Linked DNA regions of Homo sapiens. The protein of the gene in region 3 purifies or fractionates together with the protein of the main gene of each other region. This does not show direct contact. Each region holds a gene or a part of one and is shown on either strand. Other genes may lie near its edges.

Region 1 (3,778 bases), about 110 Mb from region 3:
GTTTCCCTGCCTCTCCCCTGCATAAGTACCTTGGGTATAAAACCCAACTGATGCTATGACTCCTTTAGGAAAGATTTTATTTTTTACCGAAGTTGCAAGTAAAACAGGCCTGCCCTGGGATTATCATTTCTGCACCCATTTTTGGTCATCCATTTTTTTTTCCAGGAACTAGCTTTCTTTCTTATCTTGTCATCCATTATCCGAAACCCACCATGGTTGAGAAGCCAACCTGCCAACCCAGAACTGGTAGGAATTCCAAACCACTTAGAGAAAATACTTTTAGCATAAAAGCTGGAGATCCAAACGTTGATTAAGTCATTTAGCAGGACATTTCTGACTTCAGAGAATATCTCAACTACCTGTAACTGCAGGACCAACATCTCAGATATTTTTGCCTCACATTCTCTGGGTTTTGGTTCTTACCACATTGCCTTCCTGGAGACAATAAAGAATCTTGTCTTGTGCTTCAGTCACACTTAGTGCTGGAGAAATTTTACTGGATGAGAACCTCAGCCTAGACCTGGTACAGAAACAAAGAGCAGAAACAGGTTGTAATTTATGGCCTTGAGCCTCACACTAAGGGCTGGCAAGTACTGATAATAAAACACAACAAGAATATCCATACTTATTCTGGGGAGCTTACTGTGGTCAGAGCTGCCAGGAAAGACTCGGCCCTGCAATCCCCCAAACAATGTATATTCTGGCAATTCTTGATAGATAATGTTAACGCATACACTAAGCTATGTCTACAGTGCACTTGTGAAATGGTTTCTGCTAAGTAAAACTGGCATCAGTGTGTATTATGGTTATATTCCCACAGGATAGATTAGCTAACACATAATAGGCACTCATTAAAAATTTGCTGAAGATTAAACAGACAGGTGGCATAGAGCAAGTTTTCATTATTGCTATTCATGGTGTATCCTTTTTGGACATCCATTTTTTCCCCTTGTGTTCCAAATAAAACCAGAAAAGGAACTGCAAGTGATAACATCAATGTTTCAAGGGACAGAGACTCATAAGCAGAGGTATCATGGTCATCCCTCAATATATGGGCCCAGTTAAGAAAAGGTTAGGTACTGTGAGTCTGTTATTGCTGGCCCATGAAACATAAGCACAGAGACAGAGACACACACACATACACACATGCTCTCTCTTTTTTCATAAGGACCCAGATATAGATGAAATTTCCAGTAAGGGTACATGTGGTGCCCTTGCTTGCCACATGTTGGCTTTGAATGCTGCCAGGGAACAGCTAGGGCCCTAGTGCAGGAAAGAGTAGCAGTAGTCAACCAGTTACTAAAATAGGCCCTGCAGGTTTCCATTCTAACCCTTTCCTCTTTATTGCTAATATATGCAACTTCTGAGCCAAGATTTCCAGAAATGATGGCAAACAGAGATCAGTTATAAGCCTTAATTCTTAGTAGGAAAGAAACATCTCAATTTTCCAGGAAAAGAGGAAAGAGAATATCCTAGTCAAAAGAGAATATTCTTCCTAGTCAAACATCCCTGGTCAGTTGGGCCCCAGGTTCCCATGGCAAAACCAAACATTCAGCAGTGCTGCCTCTGCAGCACCGCAGGCTCCTCCGGGTGGAAAACTGAGGAGCCTGGGGTCTAGCTTTGCCTAAAAACTGGTATGTCTGACCCACCTCCTTTCCTCTAGGGCTTGAGAATAGGGTGAGTGTTGGCTGAGGATTGGGGATCAATTTGAGAACTGGGGAAAGGTCCCTGGGTAACTGAGGGCTTCTCACTTGCTAGCCTTCTTGCCTTCTGTCTGGGGCTTGCTTTCGGTCTCGGCCTCACTCAGCTCCTCTGTGGGGCTCTGGGGTTCAGAGCGAGGAAACGCTGTCTTCAAGGTGTCCACAATGGCACTCACCACCATCTGCAGGGGTCAGAGGTGCAGGGTCAGTCCATCCACATCCACAGATGGAAACCGCCAAGCAAGCAGTCGCCTCACAGCACTTTATGCAACAGGACAAGGAGAGGGGCCAGGCTATCTAGCAAAGCCTTATCCAGTAGGAAGGTCGAATACCAGCTAATGACTTAGTGCCAACTATCTTTCCTTTTTTCCATGGCCATAAAAATCTTTTTCCTTGAGGAGTAAAACAAACAACGCCATGGGAAAAGAAGCCAAAACCAATAGTGAGAGAAATAAAAACCTGAGTTCTGCGGGCTGGTGATGTATTTTTCAATTTCTTTCTTTTTAAGTAAAAAGGTGATTTCTAGTTTCCAAATCGGTAACACCTTCATCAAGATGTGCATCAGTGGAAGTACATAGGTAGGAGTATAAAGAGAAAGGAAAAGTGAAGAAGATGATCAAAAATAAAAATAACAGTTAAGGGGCATAGTAATATTAACATGCTTAGAGTAACTTACACAGAGCAAACAATCAGTTTTTCTAGTCAATTCAAACAATTTCTCTTCTTTAGGTACAGAAAGAATAACAAAGATCACTCAGGTCAAAACTAAGATATCTGGAGTTGAGTTGTTATAACTTATCTACTCATACAAGACCAAATAAAATAATCCTCACTAAAGATTAACTCCATTTCTTCAGAATGGCAAAATGACATACAGATATTTGCTAAAAAGGACAATGTACAAACAAAACCTTAAACTATCAAAGAAACAGAACGAAACATTTACTCTTCCTCTGGTGCTTCTTGCTAACTAACACTGCTGGCTCAGAGCAGCACCATGCCTTCTTTGACTCATTCTTGTGGTATTCCTCCATAAGGAGTAAGCTAGCATAGCCAAGACAAGGCTGAAGAGAGTGGTCAGCAGACTACAGTAAAGACTGGGGGAGAACAAACCAGGGAAAGAACACTTGAGGATGCATGCATTTAGATAATGCAGCTTAGAAAATACAACTTGTTCTCCAGGATCACAGAACTGTAGTCTGTGAGGGTGGGGAGGTCCTCATCTGTCTCATTCACTGATGTATGAACAGCAGCTGGTAGAGTGTCTGGCTGAAAACAGGCATCCAGTAAGTAGATGTGGAAATAATGGATGAATGATATCTGCATGGAACTCTGGGCATTTACCCAGTTGATCCCTTTTTAGTTTGTAGTTTTTTCCATAGCAGTGGATATCCCCTAACACCTACTACATGAAATTCTATTTTATTTGTTGCTCCAAGCCTAGATGAGAAGAGGGAGGCTACTCTTCCGCCAATGTGTCAGTGTTTCCCAACCCTATAAAACACACATCACTTTTGATAAACATAAGCCTCAGACTTCTGCCCCAGAGATGCTCATATCAGTTGGTAATCACTGCTTACAAGCTCTGACATGTTACACAAATGTCCTTCTTCCACCATCTCCATAGGTGCTGAGATAACCTCTTGAAAAAGATACAATTCTCTCCATACTCTGTTCTCTAGCGGAGAACCATGACACCACTCTAAATCCAGCCTCAGGTCGTCTTAGGCTCTCTTTCCTGGGTGACCCAACACTGGAAATGAACTTTACCCTCTGAAAGACCACCCCTCATGCCAGCTATCTGTGAAGACACAGATCAATCTTCACATGCCTCCAACAGTACAACAATATAATGATACCCCCAGGAGATATGTGTACACTTAAGAGTGTTGGGGTACTGTTTCCCAGCAGCTGTTTCCTGTGATTCAGCAAGCTGATGATTCAACCAATATTTGGCAACAGGTCTTGACAATTTAAGTCCATGTTCTATTGACGGCTCTGTGCTGCCCCTTCCCACACCCTACTGCTCTTATTTTTCAAGGACTGCCTCCATTCTGATGAATCCTCCCCATTTATAG
Region 2 (3,778 bases), on a different chromosome or scaffold from region 3:
GTTTCAAAAAAGGCCTAAGTGGTTAAATGGCTTACAAAGATAAATAAAATACAGGATGATGAAATGAACTATAAGGAAATATGAACAACAATGGTAACAGGTAAAATATTGGGCCAAGCCTGATGGCTATTATAAAACAGAATTCTAGAAAGTTGCTATGGGTAGGTCATAAATTTAGCTTTAAGTTTTCTAATGGTCAATGTGAAATAAAAAATTTGATCAGTTAGATAAAATCATCATGTCTGTAAGAAAATAAAAATTAATTCCTCAAAGGAAGCATAATTATCATTTATTGTTACTGAATTATTAACAAGATTACAATGAAATTTCTTCAAAGATTTCATAAAGAAAATGCAAAGGCAATTAACAGTGTCATCAACAACATCCTTTCAAGAGAAATATGTTTCAGAGGGCTGTTTCTTATTGTTCCTTCCTTAGTACAGATGGCAGGCATCACGAAACAAAGAGCCATTCAGTAAAAGCTACCCTACAGGGAGTGAATACCATTTAGACTAGATACATTGACAGCTTTTTGCTCCTCTAGGTTAACAACTACTTTAGAACATTTAGAGAAAGAAACAAGCTGGACATCCTCCAGGCAATACTACATAGTATTTCAGCTAAGCTTCTGAAAGATTTTGGGAAGCAGTGGGTTTGAAATAACAAGTGCAACTTTAATTGGCAGTATGGACTGCCTATTAAAAGTGAACCACATGTTTTAACTAGTCTTTTGAGCTGAGAGTAAAGTGATATTCTCTTGAAAAAACTAAGCATCCCAACAAGATTACATATTTGAATAGGAAGTCATATGATCTCTGCTCAAAGGTGAGTCAAAGGAATATTCTGGCCAAGATTCTCTTTTCAAAACGATTCTGAGTCCAGTCAATGGACAGTTATACATCATCAAGGTTCATATTTGTGTTCCATAATTGGGTGAAACATTAGCATGAAAAAACAGGTATAACTGAAGATATGTCTCAGACCCAATCCTCTATATAGCACACAAAGAAAAACCAGATTTTAGCAATGCTACTTCTTATCCTCTTTAACTAATTAAGAAATTTAGGAAACATACACCATAGTATGACAGATGTTTCTTACTATACGGGTTATTAACTATAAGTTAAAAGTTGGGGGACATCATCTACCAAAAACAGTAAATATAGCTTTAGAATATCTGAATCCTCTGTATCAATATTTAGATGAGTAGCTGGCAAACTATGGCCTCACAGCCACCTGCTTTTACAAATTAAGTTTATTGGAGCATGGCCATGCTCGTTTGTTTATATATTGCCTATGACTGTTTTCTCTCTACAACAGCAGAGCTGAGTACTTGTGATAGAAACCTTCTGGTCCACAGAAACCTAAAATATTTATTATCTGGCCCTTTACAGAAGAAAGCCTGCCAACCCCTGCTTAAATAGCAGTGAAAGATGCAGGTTGTGATAATAAAATTTAATAACCATTATGTAAAATAATACCTGTCTATTCTCTATAGTCACAGGATCTATATCTAGCTCATCCAAGAAAAGGTTTGGATTATTTTTTATTTATTTATTTTTTTGAGATGGAGTCTTGCTCTGTCGCCCAGGCTGGAGTGCAGTGGCACAATCTCGGCTCACTGCAAGCTCTGCCTCCTGGGTTCAGGCCATTCTCCTGCCTCAGCCCCCCAAGTAGCTGGGACTACAGGCGCCCACCACCACGCCCAGCTAATTTTTTGTATTTTTAGTAGAGACGGGGTTTCACCATGTTAGCCAGGATGGTCTTGATCTCCTGACCTCGTGATCCGCCTGCCTTGGCCTCCCAAAGTGCTGGGATTACAGGCGTGAGCCACCGTGCCCGGCCAAGGTTTGGATTATTAAAGTTTAAAAGCAGGAGAATCAGAAAACACTTCTATTTTACCATAATACATGTTATTCATTGTTCTATCAAGAGACCATTATTATCAACTCTGATTCTCTCTCTCTCACTCTTTTTTTTAAGAGATGGGGTCTCATTGTCTTGTCCAGTGATCACAGCTCACTGCATATCCTCAAACTCCTGGGCTCAAGGGATCCTCCTGCTTCAGCCTCCAGGGTAGCTGGCACTACAGACGTGTACTACCACACTCTGCTAATTTTTTTTATTTTTTTGTAGAGACAGGGTCTCACTTTGTTGCCCAGGCTCGTCTTGAACCCCTGCACTTAAGTGATCCTCCTGCCTCAGCCTCCCAAAGTGCTAGGATTATAGGCGTGAGCCACTATGTCTGGCCCCTCTCTCTTCTTTTTTTTTTTTTAACCTTTCAATGTTTTGTGATTAACCATCTGTATAGTAAGTTTTTCTTTTTAATTTAAATTTCGTTTTCAACTCTGATTATCAAAGGATTTGAGAGTATAGTCTCTCTACAAGTCTCAAGTGCCAGGGGTCTATAATGAACTTACCTTGGCACTGAATCCTAACTTTAGAGTGAAAGACTGCTTTACTCCTAAAAGGTTTTTCCAGGTGGTGATAAAAAAGCACAACAAAGTCTGCATAGCATAGTTGATGAACCCTACATATAAATGCTGGCCTAAAAACATACTCAAGCTTGCAGATTAACAAGCAAGAAATATTTTGAATAGACTGTCTAATAAACTAACAAGTCTATTATTTGGAGGGGAGTAAAGAGTTATTTTTAAAAAGTGTTTTAAGAAACACTTTAAATTCAACCAAACTTGACCATGACTGTAAAATCAATAAAAATAACTAAGTTAAGTAAGAACTGGAGTTTCAGTCTTCAGAGAGATCATTAAAGTAGCTCTGAGGAATTCTAATCTTTTCAGGTAGAGATTTTCAATCAGCAGAACAATGTGAAGGGCTGTTACTGGGATTCAGTCAGCGAGCAGTCCTGGAAAAATAAAGCTTCTAGGAGTGAAGCCTAGACTGCAGCTTCACAGCCTCACTCCAATGAGTTCTTCAGAGTTAACGGTCAGATCTTTTGTTTCCTGGTATCTCATAATCTTTATCAAACCAGCTATTAGGTGGCTGTGACCCATATCTGTTGTGATCATTGCAGTTACTGAAACTGAACTATTAACACAGTGTTTTTTTTTTCAGTTATGAGATCCAATAGCTTTTCCACTGTAAAGAATGTAGCACAGAACTCTTCAAGAGGAGTTTTCAGTACTCTTACTCACCTGCTATTCAATACTCCTAAGATTTCAAAGATGATGAGCTCAAACATGGTGCAAGAAAATGCAAACGTCACGGAGAAGATCACCTGTACAACATACTGACGTATCTGTTAAAAGCCAAACAGAGACTAGAAGTTATTTCCTTGTTTAAAAACTGAACTGATAACCTCCTTCTGGTTACAAGTCAGAAAACTTATTTTGAGGAAATTCTCAAGTCATTGGAAGTAGGGCCACAACAGCAACTTGCCTGGAGCTAAAGAAAAAGATCAATATAGGTGGCACTTCTGAATCTTGAGTCACTATTACCAGCATCCTCCTGTGGATGAAGAATTTTGAGGACAAGAAGATGAAGTGACAGGGTCATAGGTAGCACTTAGAATTCCTGATGCATACTGACAAAAAACTGACAGATTCGTACATAATGGTTAATGTTTAAAGGGGTTCTTCAACACTCTGCAGATCCTGGATCAGTTCTGGAACCTTCCTCGGGAGGTCTTAAAGTATTGGGCAGAAGAAAATCTCCAGAATCCCAGGCTCTTTCAGACAATAAACTCCCTGGGAAAGTTTAATGGAGAATATCCTAGAAATGACCCAAATGTAGACTATAACCACTGATCTTATTACTA
Region 3 (3,778 bases):
CCACCTCTTAATACTATCAAATTGTGGATTAAGTTTCAGCCAATGAATTTGAGATGGGGGGATTCAGACCACAGCAGATGAGTTGAGACCCATTTATATAGATCGTGGAGTCAGAGCTTTGGCCCACAGGCCCTGAATCAGGGCTATTAGGGGATATCGTCTGAGCCTTTTGGTGCTTTTTAAGTGAGCCCAAGGGAGCCTGTGGTTAGGACATGAACGTACACGTATATGCCTACACATGTGCAGACAAACATGTGGGCACACATTTGTGTGTCCTTCCCCTTGTCCCTTTCCACTCACCAAGCACACCTAATGGAAAACTCTGGTCTCTTCCTTCCAGGGACACTCTAATTGTCACCTGCACCAACAGTGCCACAAGCATCTTTGCCGGCTTCGTCATCTTCTCCGTTATCGGCTTCATGGCCAATGAACGCAAAGTCAACATTGAGAATGTGGCAGACCAAGGTACAGGACAGTTGTTACCCTGCTGTTGCAGGGCAGGTCCCAGGCTCATGTCACAAGCTCCTAATTTAGACTATGCTGGGAAGCTGGCCTTCTGGAACAGGATAGAGGGTGGAGGAGCCCAGGTCCTTCTTTACAGAGGGACCAAGGCAGGCTCAAGTAGGAAGCTCACTGCAGAGTCAGAACTGGCTGGTCTCTAACTGGAGGGATTGCTTTAAAAGCCCTCTTTCCTTCTCCTTGCCTCTCCTTCCTCTTACCTTGCCCCTCTTAATTTAGCTCCAGTCTATAGAAATAAGGGTTATACCTGTTAGGTATGAGTAGAGAATTTATTAGGCAAACCATTGCCTCAGGAGCTGATGTGGGCACAGGCTGCTGTAGGATGACATTCATTGCAGAAGGCCCTGTCGAAACCAAGGCTTAGTGAGAGAACTGACTTCAGAGGAGCATTTTCCTTACAAAGCACTTTTCTGATTGTTAGGTCAAATGTGCTTTCAGGGCCTTCTGCTTAGTTAGCAATGCAGACCTGCAGTTTTTTTCCCCAGTGGGTAGAAATGTTGGATCGTGCTGGGTGGGTGGAGAGGCATGTGGAATAAATGTTTACTCTCTACCCAAATGATCTTTTTATTAATGGCTAACATTTGTATGGTGCTTTCAAGTTGACAAAGAGCTTTCATTTTTATTTCACTTAATCCATATTACTAGGACAGCATTTTGCAGAGAAAGCATTCAAGATTTTAGTTTAACTCTTCATTTTCACCCAGCCTGGTTCCACAAAGGATTTGTATATTTAGTAGGTTTCAGTGATCAAGGGATTTCATTGTGTCTGTTGTTTACCATTATGATCTCATTCTCAATTCAGACATTTATGGGATGCGTAGTGTGTTGGTCATGTGCCTCATGCTGTGGGGCATGACTGTGGCCCTGGACAACCAAGGGGCGTACCTGTGAGAGGCTTGTCTGGGCAGTTATCTTCCTTCAAGGAGCTGACTGCAATTCTCAGATAATGGCTCAGATGTGGTGAGAGAACTAAGCCCTGGAAATGTCACCTTCTTGGATACTAAGATTTCTTCTGGCTCCCCAAGGATAATTCATTACTGCGCCAATTCATGCTGATGGTGCACCAGGGGCCTCAAAGAGTTAAAGAGCCAGCACTTTCCAGGGGTGCAATTATCTCTCCCTGGAGAGAGTGTAAAACCCTGAGGGGTGTTTGGTTCCGCAGCAATGCACTAAATTAGAGGGGCCCCAGGAGATAAGCAATGGCTCTCCCTGGTTGAGAATTCTCAGATACCCTGGGAGGCAGGGAGGGAAAGTGAGAGGGTAAACGGGTTTTGTCCTTAGAGGTACTGGAGTCACTTCCAGCTGTCCTGTAACCTCATTTCCTCCTAGCAGAGTGGTTGGAGCAGATAGGTTCTGTCCCATTTTCTAGAAGATCTTAGGCATTTTGCTTTTTGTGACATTACTGAGTTCTTTTGGAACCAGTGGCCAACCTGCTAGAGACTGTGAATCCTGAGATGTGGGCCAGGTTAGTAAATGATTCTGAACTCTTTTCTGCTCCAGGAAACGGATTTCTGGGGAGATATTGCAAAAACTCAAACAGAATGTTGTTTATCTGGTGTGTAAAATTGCCAACAAATTGCCCATGTTTTCCTCTGAAATTTCTCCTTTCCAATGTTTTTTCACTTCCTTTGATTTGAACAAGGGTAGGGGCACTTCTAACAGGTTCTAACCTGTTGTGTTAATTCTTGTCTCTGGCACAGGGACGGGTGGGCCTCATCTCTCACAGGAGAAGGCCCATGAGATCTTCTCCCAGACCCACTGGGGAAGCTTTCCTGCTCATCTGAACCTGGATGTATTTTTATATGTGCTTTACAGGCTTGTCTTACTTGCCTTGATATAATGGAGGCTCTGCAGAATACAGGACAGAGATTTGGGGTCAGGCCTGCATTCAACCTGAGCCCCACTTCCTCCTTGCTGGGCAACACTGGCATATAGACATTCAGGACATTTTTGCTGACCCAACTTTGGTAACTAAGTTTTGATCTTTAGTCAAATAGAGGTTCTCTTTAATGACCTAACACTATGCGATTTAGTTTACCACTCCCTTCTAAAAGAGGCATTTCTACCAAAATGATCATCTTAAATCTTGGTCTTATCAAAATTTTGAGGGGCTGAGGATGGGATTGGTGAAGAGACCAAGCTGTGTTTTGCTTTTATGATAGGCATAGGGAAGGGGGCATGTTCTCGGGGAACTACTCTAGAAAAGCAGCTTCCAGGAAAGTTAGCCCTTCAGAGCCATCTCGCCACCATATGCATTACCACCTATGGAGCGGTGACTCATGTTCAGAATCTATCCTGAAGCCAAACAAAGATGCTTATCCAATAGCAGAAACACTGAGTTATACCAGAGTAGATAAGCAGAAATTTGCATATTTATTTAGCATTCCCAGGTGTAGGTAACTCTCAGCTAACCGGAGCACTAGAAATACTACTTTGGTTCCCTTGCCCCTTAATAGTTCAGATACCTTACTAATCAAAATAAGCATTCTCAAACAGCACTGATGTCCCACTTCCATGCAGCCATCTGTCTGTCACCTGTATCCCAATCCTTCTGCCCAAAGGCACAGAGGTCCAGGTGGCATATCCTCAGAGAGCTCATTCAATTTGTAATAGTTATCACAGCAGAGTGGCTACCCAAGCTGTGCCATGGGCCTTGATGCATTGCACTGACCAGAGCCCCTTGCTGTGTCTTTAGTGGCACTCTAGGATAAAGGAGGCTCTCATGGTAGGATCTCTGGGGACTCTGCTCAAGTTACTGAAATGAAGAGCCCCTTTGATCCCTTCTCATAAGAAGACTAATAATGGTCTATGTTTTCTGAGTTCATAGTATGTCCAGGCATTGTTCTAAGCCTTTTACTTGTGTTGATGCATTTAATTCTCACGGAAGCTCTATAAAGGTAGGTACTATTACTATTTCCATTGTGTGGATAAAGAAACTAAAGTTTGTCTAGAGAGAACAAGTGACCCCCTAAGTCCTCGGCTAGCAAGAGGTACAGCCAGTTTGTTTTTTGTTTCTTTTTGAGATGGAGTCTTGCTCTGTCACCCAGGCTGGAGTGCAGTGGTGCCATCTTGGCTCACTGCAACTTCTGCCTCCCGGGTTCACACCATTCTCCTGCCTCAGCCTCCTGAGTAGCTGGGACTACAGGCGCCCCCCACTACGCCCGGCTAATTTTTGTATTTTTAGTAGAGACGGGGTTTCACCATATTGGCCAGGCTGGTCTTGAACTCCTCACCTTGTGATCTGCCCACCTTGGCCTCC
Region 4 (3,778 bases), on a different chromosome or scaffold from region 3:
AGGTAGCTGGGACTACAGGTGCATGCCACCATGCCCAGCTAATTTTTGTATTTTTTGTCGAGATGGGGTTTTGCCATGTTGCCCAGTCTGGTCTCAAACTCCTGGACTTAAGTGATCCACCCACCTCAGCCTCCCAAATTGCTGGGATTACAGGTGTGAGCTACCACACCCAGCTTCAGCTATCTTTTTTATTAACTTTATTGAATTGTAAACAGAGAACACTTTAATTCTAAACAACTCTCTCAAGAGAGTAAGTCTAGGCCAGGCGCGGTGGCTCACATCTATAATCCCAGCACTTTGGGAGGCTGAGGCTGATGGCTCACCTGAGGTCAGGAGTTCGAGACCAGCCTGGCCAACATGGTGAAACCTCGTCTCTACTAAAAATACAAAAGTAGCCGCAAGTGGTGGCACATGCCTGTAGTCCCAGCTACTCAGGTGGCTGAGATGAGACAGGAGAATTGCTCGAACCCAGGAGGTGGTAGCTGCAGTGAGCCAAGATCGCGCCACTGCACTCCAGCCAGGGTGAGACAAAGAGAGACTCTCTCAAAAAAAAAGAGAGTAAGTCTAAAGACTTACTCTTTTCCAACATTTTAGATGTCATTTTTTAAGCTTCATACATTAAACATTATTACTGCTTTATATGGCAACATTTACCCTGGATTCATATTTGCCAATTTATTTATTCCCTATTCCTTCTTGCTTTCCTTCTAGGATAATGCTTATTCCTAAAGTACATGCTTTTAAAATTCCATTGGTAAATAACCTCTCTCAGATTTGGTTCATCTGAAAATATTTTCACTTTGCCCTTATTCTTTAAGGAAGGTTTTGATGATAGTTACTTGATACTGGCTGTAACTGTTGCTATTCAAAGACCTGCTACTTGCTGTTCTTCTGAAGGTACTGTGTTTTCTCCCTGCTTACCTCTCTGTATTTGGTATTTTCTACCTGTAGCTTATTCTGTTTGTTATACATTATAAATTTCCTGTCATGATGGGCTGACCACCAATTCTAAATCAATTTCAGTTACCATCTCTTCAGATTATTGCAATTCCTCCATTCTTTCCTACTGGGATTGCAATGGGCATGTTTGACTTTCTCAGTGTCTTCAACATCTCAAGCTCTCATATGTTCCATCCCCTTGCTCCTCTGTGTGAAATTCTGTTATTTCTTCAGATTCATCTTTCATTAACTCTTTTATAGCTGTTGTTTAACATTGTTTTTCAAATCTTTCTGGTTATTTTTGATAGCCTTTTGTTGCTCGCTATTATAATTCCATTTTAAAAAATATCTTTGAACATTTTATATCTAATTATTTTACATTTGTATCTAGAAATTCTAATGCTGATTTCCTTAGGGATCTAATTTTTATTGTCTCTGCTTTGGTGTAGTTTAATTATGTGTTCTTTGCTTGTTCAATTGACAGCAATCCCAAAGACGTAACTAAACTGGAGTGCTTTTTCCAGAGAGGATCTGTTTATTTCTCCTGAGACAATGACAACACCCACCTCTGTGTATATTTTACTGCTTTTAAGGGTTCCCGTTCAATCCTGATCTCTGACTCAGATCTCCCACTAGAGCACTGATATGGCCATCTGCCCTCAGGGCAACCCAGCTTAGAGTGTTTAAAATTCTCTATAAGCACAACAGTACATTAATCAGAAGGGCCCATTAGAGGATCTAGTTTTCCCTACTTCTAAAAGTGGAAGTTCAAACCTGTGTTTCAATTTTACATACACTCTTATATAATGTACCCTCCCTTAGAGTGCAAAGTATCAGTACTATCCTTTATCATCAGTTTAGGAGTTATATGTAGTATTACTACCTTAACATTAAAAACAATAACATTAAACTGCCTGTAATTAATTATAAAAGCTTAGAGTATTCAGTTAAGGTAAACGATACCTAAAATGTTCTCCACAAAGCTAAAGGGAACAAGATTATTTCTTAGTTTATTAAAAGGAAAAAAGAAAGTGTGATTCGAAACCCAAGGAACTGAAAAATAAGGTCAGATGCCTCAAATATGAGGAAACTGCCAGAGAATAAGCTGGATCCCTGCACTGACACCAAGGGAGTAACTGGCTAAACCACAGGCAGCTGTGACACAGCTGTGACGGCCCAGTCCCCGAAGGGACCAGAGAGTGCTGTGAAGGAGCTAAGTGCTAGCTTCAGGGAAAGCCCAGCCAAGCCAGGCTGTGGTCACTCCCGAACACTAAGGCTAGCCCTGGCAACAGCTCTGTGGGAGGGTCAATTGTCAACAGTCACAGTGAACAGGGGCACCCATATTACTGTGCTCCATGCCTGTGGTGGGACAGCCTGATGGCAGGATTGCCAACTATTACATCCTCCTGCAGGCATATTCCCATAGGTAATAGGAAAGTGAATGCTTTCTTGAATTTTGGACTAAGTCCTGTCATTTCACTTTACAGTTAAATTGTCTAGATCCAGACACCTAAACAGCATAAAATCAGGGATGAAAACAGAGGCATTCAGACCTGAGAGACTTGTGTCAGAAAGGTCAAGCCTAGAGAAGCTGCTAAGTGAAAACGGAAGCTGAAGAAAACAGGAGGTGGAGGAGGATGTGGGCTCCCAGGAGGAGAGGTGAGCCTAGGAGGTGTTGCCCTAAGGCAGAGCCAGGCTTTGCTTCTCAGATGCCACACAGCACTTGGCCCCACTGAAGGGCCTGTCAGCTTCTGTGGGGCAGGTATCCCAAGGACAAGGACCCAGCAGGGTTGTTATTGTGTCTCCACAGCCCTGCAAAGGGCTTAGCTCAGATTAGAGGTGCAGTGGGGACCTTTCAAACCAAGACAGAACCAGCAGCCTTGCCACCAAGGTACACAGAGGTATGACTAATAAGTCTATCAATGTTCCCCTGTAAATGCAATCTATCCTCAAAACAGAGTTACCAAATGAATTAGGGCTCTAAATATGAACCCGGGAAAACTTAATAACCAAACAGTAGGCAGTAATTAGGTGATAAGATCCAGGCATACGCTGCTTAAAAAGAAGCCCCATTCAAACATTAGAATGGACACTGCAGGTGGCTCTTGTCAGGAATGACCTGCATGAACTGGGCTCACCTTTTCATTATAGTTGATGGCAATCACATCCCCGGTGGTCAGACAGGCAAAGTTCCTAAGTGCGTTTTCTAATCTGCAGACACATTCTGTCAAGGCAACATGGCAAGATGGATACCTTAATCTGAAACAAGTTTCCATGTTAGATGATTACTGGTAGGTAGAGACTGTACCATGATGGTACTTGAAACACGAAGCTTTTAATACAATAAAGTACTACTTGGCAATAAAGAAGGATGGAACTCCTAATATGCAATAATATGGATGAAATGCCAAGCTGGGGTAACAAATGCCAAGCTGGGGGAAGGGGAAATAACCAACCACAAAAGGGCAGTGAGATTCCATCCACATGGAACCCTGAGAAAGACAGATCTATGAGGATGGGAGGTAGCTGAGAGGTTTCTGGGCCAGGGGATCAGGTGGGGACTGACAGGAAAGGACCTTTTGGGGACATGGAAATGTTCTGATTACATGGGTGTATACATTTTCAAACTGGCTGAACTGTGTGCATTTTATTGTATACAAATTATACCATGGGATTTTAAAAAATCCTGTGGGAGTACTAAAGAACAAAAAAGATTTAATGAGTCAGATAGGTCCTCTCAAAAGTTCCTCAAAATCAAAGATGCTTTCATTTATACTTCTGTTGTTTCTATCTTTTGAGCTGATAACTTTAGTTAATAGAAATTAAAATAAAGAAACCA
Region 5 (4,564 bases), on a different chromosome or scaffold from region 3:
ACTGCTGCCCTCAGATCCCGCCTGCCCATGGTCCTGGCCCACAGCCCCTGGGTCAGCCAAATTCCCAGGCTTTGCCTCTCTAAGACTGGGCTCCACCTCTGGGGACCCAGCATCATCATTTTCTGCTGTGTCTGTGCAATGATGACCTGCTGACTGTTTCTCCATGGTTACTCTCTCACTCTCTTTCTCTCTCTGTTTCTATCACCTCTCTGTTTCTCTTCCACTCTGCATAGACCCCAGGTAAGGGCCTTCACCCAGGATATACCCCAACACCCTCAGCCATGCTCTTACCTGGGTGATGTCCCCCTGGATCTGTACCACACCTGGTAGTGGAGCCATAGCCTGCAGGTCCACAGCCACCACGTGGCCGGACCCTTGGCCCCTGTGGACAACATGGCCCACATCAGCCTAGTTTCGCTCCCGGGCCCCTCCCACCCAGCCGGCCCTCCTGGGTCTCCCATCTGGGACCCCCACACTTACCCGATCTTCTGGCTCAGCACCTGGCTCCAGCTGCCTGGGGCTGCACACAGGTCAACTGCCCGTGTCACGCCTGGGCATACATAGTGAAAGCATCCTGATCAGCTGCACCCACTTCTCCAACCTGGAGACCCTTGCAAAATTCACCCCTCTCCCCTGGGGAGCACCCACATATCTCCATTGCCCAGGTGCCCAACTCCTCTCCGGTATTCTGCCTATCTTCCTGCCTGTCTCCCTGCCCCAGAGACCCTCTGAGTCAGCCCACCTACCACAGGGAGCTCTGCAGACCCAGCCTACTTGTTTACCTCCTGTGCCCACCTCACCGCCCAGTGACCTGCCCACCAGTCAGGGACCTTGGAAGAGTTGGAATTCCTTATCCAGTTGTAGCAGTTTGAAGGCGCTGCGAGCACGCCAGCCATTCTCCTTGGCCAGGCGGTAGTAGACATCCCGCTTGTCCTTTGACGTCCGTCCCATTTCACACACCAGTTGCTCAAGGACCTGCCGACAGTCCACTGATGCCGGCCAGTATCAGTAACCAGATGAATGGGCTACCACCTACCTCTGTAGGGCGGAGAGAACCACACAAACTAAACTGGGCTCATCTGACCCACATGACAGCTCACACAGAAGATGGGCTGACTGAAGCCCTGGCACTGACCCCACTGACCTTATAGGGCCTGAAGGACCCAATCACTGAACTCTCAGGCTCCACTGCTTATCACACAGACCCTCCTCGCCCCCATCACTTACCCCACAGTTCCCACAAAAGACCCCATAAACCCAACATTCATCCCATAGATGGCCCACTTGTGAACCTGTCCACCTCCCATCACTGTCACCCACACTCCACACATTAAACCCTGCAACTGCCACTATCAACCCTTCTCTGCTCATGTCATGCCCATTAAAATCTCACTGACTGTATCCCCAGTTGTCCCCATTGCCCCTAGATTCATATAGTCCTATTAGCCCCCATTAATCCCTTGTTTTCCACCTTTATCCTAATACTACTTCATTGTACCTCCCACTCCCTATATCTCTCTCGTTTCACCCCATTCGCCATTAATCCCTTAGATGATTAGGCCCCTTTATTACTACATCCTTATGAACCTCTAACAATGCCTGGAGAATCATGGTCTATTAGCTCCCCATTAAGCATTCAATTACTGATTTATCAGCCCCCATTAACTCAGTTTTCTCCAATAGACCCTTCATAGATCACAGCACTAGCCTCCTGCCCTGTAACTCTTTCATTAACAAACACGTTAACTGATCACACATCAGTTCCCCATTCTCCCCTCACTGTCCACCCTGCTCTCCATGGATCCATCACTGGATGATCACACTCCAACAGTTTACTATTCACCTACTATGTATCAACAGAAGTTAACCCCCCCAACCCTAGTTTACTATTGCCCTCTCTTTACTCACTCTGTCCCCTAATTCCTCGACGGTCATGCCACCATAGCCCAACTACTGACTCTGACTACAACACCATCAGCCTCTCATTATCTTTTCTTTCACCAAGGCCCCTTGATCATGACCTCCATCCATCTATTATTCCCCCCACAACCTCACCATCATCCTTGCCATTACGATGCCCCATCACTTTCCATTAACCCGTTGAATATCATACCTCCATCAATACCTGGGGGATCATTTTCCCATCCATCACTCGTTATATTCTAGTTGCTTACTCTGCCATCCCCTCATTAATCAATCAATGAACAACAGTTCGACTAAAATATTCTTATTAGCCCCCATTGATTCCCCAGTAACACCCCACCCTCACGCTCCACCCAACCTCCCAAAACAGCCTTCTGACCACACTCCCCGTCCCTCCTCATCAATACCTCAAAGATGATAGCTCCATCGGGACCACCGGGTACCCCTCCAGGCGGCTCCGACCGCTGCGTCCCATGTCCCCACCTCGAATCCACCCCGTCTACTGGTCCCCTTCTGCAGACAAACCTTGGGTCTAGAACCCACCCGGTGCCAGCCGCCCGAACCATACACAGCTACGGCGCCCAGGGCGGACCTCCCTCCTTTCCCCGCAGGCGGGACAGTGCAGGCGTGCCTCAATAGCCTCCGCCCGCATTCCTGTCCTCCGCGCCCCAGGGCCCACCTTAGTTTTCGGAGCAGGGTGGTCCGCGAGCAGCCTGTGCCTCGGCGAGAGCGCAAACGGGCGACAAGTCCTAGGGCTTCAGTTTGTGTTCGTAGTCCACCCGAATGCCCGGGGGGGCAAGCCTATGGGCTGTCGCAGCGTGGCAAACTCGGCATCGTGGATCGCCCAGGTTCCGGCGGGCCGGGACCTGATGTGAACGTACAACGTGAGCCCCGTCATCTATTGTCGACGTATCCGGGGCTCGCGAACTGCGTTTCCCGGCATGCAACGGGCACGGCCAAAGCGGCTGAATCCACGCACTGCGTGGCTGCAGCGACGCGACGCGCAAGTTGCCAGCGATTCTTTGTTCTTTTTCTTCCGAGGCCAAGATCGATTTGCTCCCCCGCCCCTCCCTTCTTGGACCGTGCTTGTTATTGAGCCTGTAAACTACATTTCCCAAGATGCCACGCGCAAGATGGCGCCCATTCATTTTTCGCGTGCCGGGAAGCGAAATTACCACTCGGGGCATAAACGTGACAGTAAGGAAAATGCGTTCTTGAAGTGCGCGAGCGCGCGGAGGCTGCTCGGCTGCAATTTCAGATCGCACTACAGCTAATGCATGGCGCTGCCTGAGTTTTACTGCCTCAGAACTTCAGTTTCCCTGTCTGGAAAGTGGGGATAATCAATAGTATAGACTTAACAGCATTATTGGGAGGGTTAAATAGGTGTAGCTTAGCCACTCTCTGGGCTTTTGTAATTCTGTGATCTTCAAATATTTTAAATTCCATCCCAGACACAAAAAAAGACTATACATCCTGACCCAGTGGACAAACGGAAAAATAATGAAAACGTTTATCATAGTGTTTACCATGTGCTAGGCTCTAAATGCCCTCAGTGGTGTGCTGGTAAATGGTTAACCACTGGCTGGGGCGGGGGTGGTGGCGGGGAGGGGTGGGGGGAAGGGAGGCTGGTTTCTAGCATTTACCAATTTCCATGGCTTAGGTACAATCTTCTTGTTAGATTTCAAGGTACCGACCTGTGGTCACTGAACAGGGAGTTTAAAAGAGATGCAGTAGTGCACTATCATGTATTATTTTTACCATACAGATAAAATGGGGGTAAATGACCTCAAGAGCATAGAGAATAGTGGAATGTGGTAAAATTAGGAAGTTACCAGTTTTGAGTAAGTTTATATCATTTCATTTTTAACCATAGCTGTTTAACTTTAGGGGGCTGAGGTGGAAGGATCGCTTGAGTCCAGGACTTCAAGACCAGCCTGGGCAATATGGTGAGATCCCCGTCTCTACAAATAATAAAAATAGCCGGGCGTGGTGGTGTGTGCGAGTAGTTCCAGCTACTTGGGAGGCTGAGGTGGGAGGATTGCATGAGCCTGGGAGGTCAAGGCTGCAGTGAGCCTTGATCTTGCCACTGCACTCCACTGTGGGTGACAGAGTGAGACCCTGTCTCAACAAACAAACAAAACCAGTTGTTAAACCAGCTGTTTAACAACCAGTTTGCAAAATTTCTGAAAATTGAACAGCTCCTCCCAACCTGTATAAGTTGGCTCCAGCATGTCCTTCCCTTTGTTCATTCATTTTAATCCTGGCAACATGCATATGAGTATTAGCCAGGGGCGGCGGCATGTGCCTTTAGTCCCAGCTACTCCAGAGGCTGAGGTGGGAGGATCCCTGGAGCCCAGGGGTTTGAATCTAGTCTGGGCAACATAGCGAGAACCCATGTCTCTTTAAAAAATAAAAGGGCTGGATGCAGTGGCTCACGCCTATAATCCCAGAACTTTGGGAGGGCGAGGCGGGGGGATCACTTGAGGTCAGGAGTTGGAGACCAGCCTGGCCAACATAGTGCAACCCCGTCTCTACTAAAAATACAAAAATTAGCTGGGCGTGGTGATGCGCACCTCTAGTCCCAGCTACTCAGGAGGCCAAGGTGGGAGGATCACTTGAACCTGGGAGGTGGAGGTTGCAG
Region 6 (4,391 bases), about 65 Mb from region 3:
GTGATCTGCCCACCCTGGCCTCCCAAAGTGCTGGGATTACTGGCGTGAGCCACCATGCCTGGCCCTCTTTAATAATATCTTAAAGATCTTTAGCCATGATCCTATTTCTCTGACATTCTCTATCTTGCTATGTGTGTTCTATGGTACTCTTAGACTGGTAAGCATACTGACAGAATGAACTGGGAAAAAAAAGACATTTTAAAAGTTAAAGTTTTGTTATTTAAATGGGTCTGTAAATGTTTACATTTTACTATACTCCAAGCCTAATGGAAAAACTCAAAACATTATACAATTAGGTATGTCCAAAGACATGAGTTCCAGCCTCACCTTCCACAATTAGCTATGTGATGTTGAGCAAAATGGTTAAACGCTCTCATCCAGGCAAGAAAAGGGCAATTTCCTTCTCACATTCCATGTTGTTTATACTCAAACCAGATAAACTTGAGATAATGAATCAATGGTGAAAATCCACCTGATAAAAGGTGTTTTTAAATTAAGAAGGGATCTTACCTTTCTGCTTCTGGAAGCTGGTTAATTTTTCTGGATATATCAACAATTGTTATGTTTTCCTTATTATTGGATTTATGATTTTCCATTTTGAGCCTTAAAAAACATGAAGATATCATTTCTCAAGAATTTATACAAAGAATTTTAAAAACCTTCTGAAGACTAAAAATAATACTGTAGAGCTAATCTGAAAAAAATCATTGCATACATATTATTAAAAAAAAATCTAAGTGAAACAGAAACCAGAACATGAAAAGCAACACATAAAGCTTTTAGGAAATACAGAATATCTTCATAATCCTTGAAAGTATTTCCTAAACAATTCACAAATAGCACTAAACATAAAAGACTTATAAAACTAACAGTATTGAAGTTAAGAACCTATGGTTATCAACATATACCATAAAGATAAGCTAGTGGGGGAGAAAATGCAATAGAACTGACAAAAGAGTAGTTAGTACCCAGAACATACATGGAACTACATATCAACATGAAAAAGGTAAGCAGCCCTACGGAAAAACTGACAAAATATTTGAACAGGCACTTCACAAAAAGGAAAGTTAAATGGCCAATAAACATGAAAATATGCTCACCTTCATTATAACTGGGGGAACAACCCACAGTGAGATACCAATAGGTACCCATAGGTTAGCTAAAATCAAAATCTGACAATTCCAATTATTGGCAAGAATGCGGGGTAGCTAAAACTACATTCTGTGTACATTCTGTGGGGTAGCTTTACCCAAACTGTACAGTCACTTTGGGAAAGAATTTGGTATTATTTAGCAGATAGAAGACACACATAGCTAGCAATTTCATTTCTAGGTATACCTGAGATCAGGGCTCAGCAAACTTTAAAGGGCCAGATGTAAATGTGGTAGGCTTTGCAGGTAACATACAGCCTTTGTTGAATATTTGTTTTTAAAAAAACTATAAAAACATAAAAATCATTCTTAGCTGGGTGGCTGTACCAAGGCAAGCTATAGGCTGCATATGGCCTACATGCCAGTAGTTTGTTGATGTCTGCACTAGTTAGGGTGAAAATGTGAAGGGAATGGTGAATGATGAAGATTTGGCTCAGGTTTCAGGGTAACAGTTAAGAAAAACAAAGGCTGGATGCAGTGGCTCACGCCTGTAATCCCAGCACCTTGGGAGGCCAAGGCAGACGGATCACCTGAGGTCAGGAGTTCGAGACCAGCCTGGCCAACATGGTGAAACTCCCTGTCTTTTAAAAATACAAAAATTAGCCAGGCACGGCGGCAGCTGCCTGTAATCCCAGCTACTCGGGAGGCTGAGGCAGGAGAATCGCTTGAACCTGGGAGGTGGAGGTTGCAGTGTGCCGAGATCTCGCCACTGCACTCCAGCCTGGGTGAGAGCGAGACTCGGTCTACAAAAAAAAAAAAAAAAACAGTTCAGGGATAACAACAAAGGAAAACATGCTTTTATGAAACCAGATTTTCTCATTTCCTACAACATTACAGGCACTCGTTTAAATATTTATTGCTACCTGTTTTATATCGATAAGAGGTCATTTGGAAATGTTGATTACCTTGACATTCCATATCTCTAGACTTAAAGCTAACCTAATAAGTACAAAGCAGCCTTAGAAATTTATGTCTAGGTTTCTGGTAGTCAAATTTTTGAGGGCCTTGGCTACGATAAGATGATAAGACACAATCTCTGCTGTACAGGAGCTCTGAATGATTTTGTGTATGGGGTGGTGAAATATATAATCAAATTTAGTATGTATATATTGTACTGAGGGCAATTAAGTCACTCAATTCAGTATAAGTGCTGACTGGGCAGCCCCTGTGGGCATTTTGTCTCCGATATTAATAACAAATATCTATCAAAGACAACGCCGCCTGTAAAAACTACAAATATTTCGAAAGATTTTTGTGTTACCTATCTCATGTCATTCTTGGAAGAGCTCTGAGAGATAGGCAGTGTGGGGCCTATCTGAAAGAGAAGTAAAGTGGGACCTCTGAAAATCAAATTTGGCCGTGGTCACCTTGTAAATTGACAGTAAACCTGGGATTAAATTCAATCTCAGGCATTTCTCCTTTCTACTGAGTTAATTTAAATATAAGGTCTTTCCTTCTAGAGTGCAAAGTGAAAAGACAGCAGGAAGAGCTAACTACACTTCTACTTGCTCTCATTTACGCGCAGCGCTGCTGGTAGCTAGCGTGTCACCGCGTCGTGCTTCTCCTGACACCGGGACATTTACTTCACCCCCTCCCCCGGAATACCAGTACCTTATGCTCTCCTCCCAGCAGCCTGTGGGTGCCTCCTCCTTCCTCAGCCACGCCGGAGTTCACTGTGGCCTTTGCTCAAATTACCTGGGCGCAGCCATCTTTGGCTGACTCGTGACGCGGCGTGGGCGGGCGCCGGGTCGCGGCTGCTAATTGGACTGCGGGACGGAGGTTGCAGCCAGCAGCGGCTTTGGGCTGAGAAGCTTCCGGCCCTAGGAGGTGCCGGGAGGCTAAGCGTTGAGGTTTGTTTGCCTGGCGTAGAGTGTGCTCGTTTCACCTACTCTTGCCTCCCAGGACAGAACTTGTAGAAATTGTGAAATTTCGAGATATAAGTTGGGTGACCCTCAGTCAGCCTCTTCCATTGAAAACGTACCTCGGGCATATTACTTAACTTCCTGGTCAGTAGAGCCTACTTACGTTCTTGGCATGGGGTAAATGAAAACTGCACAGCTCTTGGCATATGATAGCTACTCAGGTTAAAAATAAGTCAAAGGTGAGCTATTTCTTGGCTCTATCGATTTTCTACTCTCCCTAGGAACTTAAGCTCCCTGTGCCATGTTTTGATCTGTATTGATTGCCCTACCATAATCAGCACCTCAGAGCTGCAGCTTATTTTTCTGAGGATTTCTCGTGTTCTCCAGAGTACTGCTTATTTGGAAGCAGTGTTGGGTGAAAGTCATCTTATTTCTTCTTGCTTTTTAAGTATAAATACTAGAAAATTTAGAATTATATATGTGGCTTGCATTATATTTCTATTGGACAGTGCTGTTCAGAAGGTACCTCTAATGCTCTCCTCCCAGCAGCCAGTGGATGCCTCACCAGGTCTTCCTCAGCCATGCTGGGGCTCCCTGCAACCTTTGCTCAGTTCGCTTGGACTAATTAACCCAATAGAAGGGAAAAATGCCTACAATTGAATTTTATCTTAACTCCATTAAGATTAGCAGGTAAACATTGTGCCAAAAAATATATAACTAACTGTAGCAATAAATACATGATCATAACACATTATCAGAAATCTTAATTATTCTCATCCTCTCAAATTTCTGAACAAGTGATAAAGTGTTGCATTGTCCAGATAATTTTTATACTGTCTCTCCATTGCAGGGTTGCTTGACCATTAGGCTCCATAGTGCCAAGAAGTCTGTAATTGCAGTTTCTAAACTTGCACAAATAGAAAGACTTATTTTCACGAAGGTGTACAAGAAGGAAAATTCCTAGTCTTTTTTTTATTTTTATTTTTTATTTTTTAGACAGAGTTTTGCTCTCGTCGGCCAGGCTGGAGTGCAATGGCCTGATCTCAGCTCATTGCAACTTCTGCCTTCCAGGTTCAAGCGATTCTCCTGCTTCAGCCTCCAGAGTAGCTGGGATTACAGGCGTGTGCCACCACGCCCAGCTGATCAGCTGATTTTTTTTTTTGTTTTTGAGACTGAGTCTCGTTCTGTCACCCAGGCTGGAGTGTAGTGGTGTGATTTCGGCTCACTGCAAGCCCCGCCTCCTGGGTTCACAGCATTCTCCTGCCTCAGCCTCCCAAGTAGCTGGGACTACAGGCTCCTGCCACCACGCCTGGCTAATTTTTTTGTATTTCTAGTAGAGACGGGGTTTCACTGTGTTAGCCGGGATGGTCTCTATCTC
Region 7 (4,133 bases), on a different chromosome or scaffold from region 3:
AACTAAACACCATCTGGAATCCTGATGTGGAAAGCAGGGGTTTCTGGTCTACTGGCTAGAGCTAAGGAAGTTGAAAAGGAAAGCTCACTTCTTTGGAGGCACCTGTCCAGAAGCCTGGCCTAGGCAGCTTCAACCTTTGAACTTACTTTTTGAAATGAAAAGTAATTTATTTGTTTTGCTACATACTGTTCCAGACTTTTAAAGGGGACAATGAAGGTGACTGTGGGGAGGAGCATGTCAGGTTTGGGCTTGGTTGTTTTAGAAGCACCTGGGTGTGCCTACCTACTCCTCTTTTCTTTTAAAAGGGCCCACAATGCTCCAATTTCCTGTCTCCTTTAGAGAGACATGAAACTATCACAGGTGCTGGATGACAATAAAAGTTTATGTTCCTAAAGTCTGAGTGGCTTCATTTTATATAGTATCTATCTCTAGGACAGCTCCCATTAGCCTAGAAACACAAAGACTAAAATCAATCTTATGCTTGAAAGTATATCCATCTTTTCTCTCTCAAGCTAGCTGCTGAAGGCTGATAAACCAGGCTCTACACAAAGGCAGACAACAGAACACTTAAACTGCTCTAGTCAAATGTTGGATTGTTACATAAAAATGACATGAACTTCCTTTTTGAGACAGGATCTTGCTCTGTAGCCAAGGCTGGAGTATAGCAGCATGATCTTGGATCACTGCAGCCTCAACCTCCTGGGCTTAAGCTATCCTCCCACCTCAGCCTCCCAGGTAGCTGGGACTATGGACAAGCACCACCATGCTCAGCTAACTTTTTAGCAGAGACAAGGTCTCGCCATGTTGCCCAGGCTGGTCTCAAATTCCTGGACTCAAGTGATCTACCCACCTCAGCCTCCCAAAGTGCTGAGATTATAGGTGTGAGCCACTTTGCCCAGCCTGGAACTTTCATTCTTAATTATCACTAAGAATTTGCACACATCTACTTCTTGAAATTTTTAAAGTAATCTTGGGATCAAGAAGTGCGGTTACTATATTTAGATACAATCTCAACATTCAACTTATCAGCCACACCTCTAGACTGCAATCCAAATGTGCATAGAACAACACATGCATGGGTTGGAAGTTTAAACTGTTTTTTTTTTTTTTTTTTTTTTTTTTTTTTTGAGAAGGAGTCTCACTCTCTTGCCCAGGCTGGAGTGCAGTGGCGCAATCTCGGCTCACTGCAAGCTCTGCCTCCTGGGTTCACGCCATTCTCCTGCCTCAGCCTCCCAAGTAGCTGGGAATACAGGCACCCGCCGCCATGCCCGGCTAATTTTTTTTTTTTTTTTTTTAGTAGAGACGGGGTTTCACCATGTTGGCCAGGATGGTCTCGATCTGCTGACTTCGTGATCCGCCCGCCTTGGCCTCCCAAAAGTGCTGGGATTACTGGCGTGAGCCACTGCGCCTGGGTGGAAGTTTAAACCCTTAATGCCAGGTTAAAACATTATATTTTCCAAGGCCATGGGCCAGCAAAAGCAATCATGACTCACTCTATTCTTCAGTTTTCTTTTTTTTTTGAGACAGTCTCCCTCTATTGCCCAGGCTGGAGTGCGGTGGTGCGATCTTGGCTCACTGCAACCTCCGCCTCTCGGATTCAAGCAATTCTCCTGCCTCAGCCTCCCGAGTAGCTGGGACTACAGGTGTGCACCACCACGTGTGGCTATTTTTGTAAAACAGCAGAGATGGCGTTTCCCCATGTTGGCCAGGCTGGTCTCAAACTCCTGATCTCAGGTGATCCACCCACCTCGGCCTCCCAAAATGCTGGGTATTCTTCAGTTTTCTGAAGTGCACACTGATTTCCCTGTTCAATAAGTATCAGGAAGCAGCATGTAGTACAGAGGTTTACTAACTCTGTGAATGGGAAGATCACTTGGCTACCCAGTGCTCTCTTATAAACATAAGTACAAGAGTGTTTCATGAAATCCGTTTTTAAAATGAACATCTCTGTGTGCCACAGTTCCTAGGACTGGGGCAAGGACACAGTGTCAAGTCTTGTTTTGAGGATGAGTCTCTGAAGAGACAGAATTCCTGCCAGAATGCGCACAGAACATAAGTCAGCCAAGTGTGTCGTGCCAGGGATACTTTGACTTTGGTTTGCTGCTGCTGCTAGGGATATTGGGAGGGTTATCCTTTCCAGGTTGTAGGAGAGGGTTGTGGGTAAAGGTCTGTCGTAAAGGACCTGAGGGGAGAAGAGAAAACAAATTTCAACGAAGAACAGAAAGGAAGAAACAAAAGACAGAATTTGGCCTGAAAGGACTATTTACCCCTGGCTGCTAGCTCCAACTGATTCCGCATGCGTTGTTCACGCTCTCGCAGCTGACGCGTCATTTCAGCATTTTTCCAGCCTGTGTAAAGAGAAGCAAGAGAGTCAGTTGCATTCCTATTTTTAGACCCCTTTCCCTAGTCCTTTTTCACAGAGGATGAGCCCTTACCTTTTTTGAAGCTCTCTAGGAAGCCTTCCCGTGGAGGTAATTTGTCCAGGTCATGTACAACACGCTGGGGGATTTTAAGTACAGTGCGTACTGCTGGAATCCGGAGACAGGATACTTGGACCAGGGAAAACAAATTGGAGGAGAGCCAGTACATAAACACTGCCTGGGTGAGAACACAGAGAAGGGACTCAGAAGCTGTATCCCTGGTCAGCTTGCTAGGTGGCTAGGCTAGGCAGAAGGCCTTGGAGCCAGCCCATAAGGCATTACATACCGTGGGGAAATGCATGGTTATGGGCAAGGTTATCAGGGGCATCATTCTGATGACATTTCTCATCCACTGAAGGTCAGAACTTTGCACACCTGTCTCAGCACCTAGCTGCCAAAAGAAGTGGGGTGGAAAAGTCGGGAAAGCTGTCAGTTTCAGTGAATCTGTCTCTAATCTCTTACCCATCAACTCTTTCTCCAGCAAGTGAAGGATGACCATTCTGTACAACTACTTTACCCTCCAACCCCAGTTCACTTTGCAGGCCTGGCACTTGGCCAATCTGGGCTTACCTCAAGAACAGCCCACATTGTAGCAGTGACTGCCAGTGGTAATATGTAGATGGGATCGGATACCGTGAGATCCTGGAACCACCAGAGGCCACCTGTCTGCAGGCTGGGCACAGGAAGGTTGGCCATCTCTCTCAAAGCAATGAAGAAGGAGATGAAGATTGGGGCCTATTACACAAGATAAACAGTGTCAGCATGCTTTACCAGAGAGAACATTTTCATCACCCCACTACTGAAAGCCATGTATAATCCACCACCACCTGTTTTTTGGGGGACCTGGGACACATGAAACACAGAGAGGAAATTTCATGGGTACTGGATGAAATAAGGAAGGAAATGTTTTTGCTCACCTGAGTCACAGGGAGAATGAGAGGTTTATAGAGTTTAATACCATGTTTTTTCTGGTAAAGTGCCATCTCCGAGGAAGCCTTGTAATCTGTGAGGTGAGGGGAAATTAATGGTTGGGGTAACAGTTACATCAGTGGAGGTGAACATCCTCATTATCTACCTGGCCTGTGAAATTTCTAACCAACCCTGGCCACTCCTTGGGAGCATTAGGTCTAAGAAACAGATAAACCTTTAGAACTTTCCCGACTGTGGCAACTTCTGATTTACATTGTTCCTTTCCCCCAGCAGAATGTAAGGAAAAGTGCAAATGTGGACTTCTCCCACGCTCATTCTGCAACTGACTCACACTCAATATGGTCTCCTGCTAACTTGGCCTCTCTGATTCGACTGGAAAACTTCTGGATCTCTGGCAAGTGATTGTGGATCCTGGCTGCCTCTCGCTGGCCCGTCACGATGAGAGGAAAAATCAGGCAGCGGGCAAAGACTGTACCTGGAAAATACAAACTAGGATTGGAGTGAAATTAAAGCAGTTCTGCAGCTAGAAGGTTGAAGGCTTTTAGGTCCTTACTGAAAGGGTCTTATTCTTGCCTTGTCCATTCTATGACTCATGCCTAAGAGGCCCAGAAATAAGGTCAGGGGAATGAATTAGTTGCTTTAAGGCTCAGTTCTCTAATTTGGCATCACAAAAGTATGGCATTAACTTCTCTAAGCAGATGATTAGGAATCCTGTTTGTTTCCTCAAACAAAAAGCTGACAGGAGTGGATTTAGCAATTATGTTACTGGCAGTTCGAATGAGG

The links.
Region 1: the proteins of SLC6A5 (region 3) and SNX19 purify together in Homo sapiens (affinity purification with mass spectrometry; 2 studies listed by BioGRID and IntAct, with this or other methods). This does not show direct contact.
Region 2: the proteins of SLC6A5 (region 3) and GPR89A purify together in Homo sapiens (affinity purification with mass spectrometry, with the first as the bait; 2 studies listed by BioGRID). This does not show direct contact.
Region 4: the proteins of SLC6A5 (region 3) and UFD1 purify together in Homo sapiens (affinity purification with mass spectrometry; one large-scale study listed by BioGRID and IntAct). This does not show direct contact.
Region 5: the proteins of SLC6A5 (region 3) and FTSJ1 purify together in Homo sapiens (affinity purification with mass spectrometry; one large-scale study listed by BioGRID and IntAct). This does not show direct contact.
Region 6: the proteins of SLC6A5 (region 3) and TMEM126A purify together in Homo sapiens (affinity purification with mass spectrometry; one large-scale study listed by BioGRID and IntAct). This does not show direct contact.
Region 7: the proteins of SLC6A5 (region 3) and OXA1L purify together in Homo sapiens (affinity purification with mass spectrometry; one large-scale study listed by BioGRID and IntAct). This does not show direct contact.

What each region holds. Positions count from the first base shown.
Region 1 is NC_000011.10:130,906,202-130,909,979, forward strand, and holds part of SNX19 (sorting nexin-19), read right to left. Parts: intron 2,245-3,778; exon of another isoform or gene 2,160-2,244; intron 1,883-2,159; coding exon 1,752-1,882; intron 521-1,751; coding exon 424-520; intron 1-423. UniProt on the Homo sapiens protein: Plays a role in intracellular vesicle trafficking and exocytosis. May play a role in maintaining insulin-containing dense core vesicles in pancreatic beta-cells and in preventing their degradation. May play a role in insulin secretion.
Region 2 is NC_000001.11:145,617,801-145,621,578, reverse strand, and holds part of GPR89A (Golgi pH regulator A), read right to left. Parts: intron 3,260-3,778; coding exon 3,156-3,259; intron 1-3,155. UniProt on the Homo sapiens protein: Voltage-gated channel that enables the transfer of anions such as iodide, chloride, bromide and fluoride which may function in counter-ion conductance and participates in Golgi acidification.
Region 3 is NC_000011.10:20,630,351-20,634,128, forward strand, and holds part of SLC6A5 (sodium- and chloride-dependent glycine transporter 2), read left to right. Parts: intron 1-340; coding exon 341-465; intron 466-3,778.
Region 4 is NC_000022.11:19,462,125-19,465,902, forward strand, and holds part of UFD1 (ubiquitin recognition factor in ER-associated degradation protein 1), read right to left. Parts: intron 3,151-3,778; coding exon 3,078-3,150; intron 1-3,077. UniProt on the Homo sapiens protein: Essential component of the ubiquitin-dependent proteolytic pathway which degrades ubiquitin fusion proteins.
Region 5 is NC_000023.11:48,474,435-48,478,998, reverse strand, and holds the start of FTSJ1 (tRNA (cytidine(32)/guanosine(34)-2'-O)-methyltransferase), read right to left. Parts: upstream 2,801-4,564; 5' UTR 2,603-2,800; intron 2,437-2,602; exon of another isoform or gene 2,331-2,436; intron 1,039-2,330; 5' UTR 952-1,038; coding exon 831-951; intron 551-830; coding exon 481-550; intron 383-480; coding exon 292-382; intron 1-291. UniProt on the Homo sapiens protein: Methylates the 2'-O-ribose of nucleotides at positions 32 and 34 of the tRNA anticodon loop of substrate tRNAs. Requisite for faithful cytoplasmic translation.
Region 6 is NC_000011.10:85,646,461-85,650,851, reverse strand, and holds the start of TMEM126A (transmembrane protein 126A), read right to left. Parts: upstream 2,886-4,391; 5' UTR 2,763-2,885; intron 604-2,762; 5' UTR 597-603; coding exon 511-596; intron 1-510. UniProt on the Homo sapiens protein: Protein required for the cotranslational protein quality control in the inner membrane of the mitochondria.
Region 7 is NC_000014.9:22,769,483-22,773,615, reverse strand, and holds the end of OXA1L (mitochondrial inner membrane protein OXA1L), read right to left. Parts: intron 3,826-4,133; coding exon 3,682-3,825; intron 3,424-3,681; coding exon 3,338-3,423; intron 3,156-3,337; coding exon 2,991-3,155; intron 2,812-2,990; coding exon 2,707-2,811; intron 2,599-2,706; coding exon 2,436-2,598; intron 2,349-2,435; coding exon 2,268-2,348; intron 2,183-2,267; coding exon 2,058-2,182; 3' UTR 574-2,057; downstream 1-573. Other genes in the region: SLC7A7 (Y+L amino acid transporter 1), read left to right, coding at 1-6.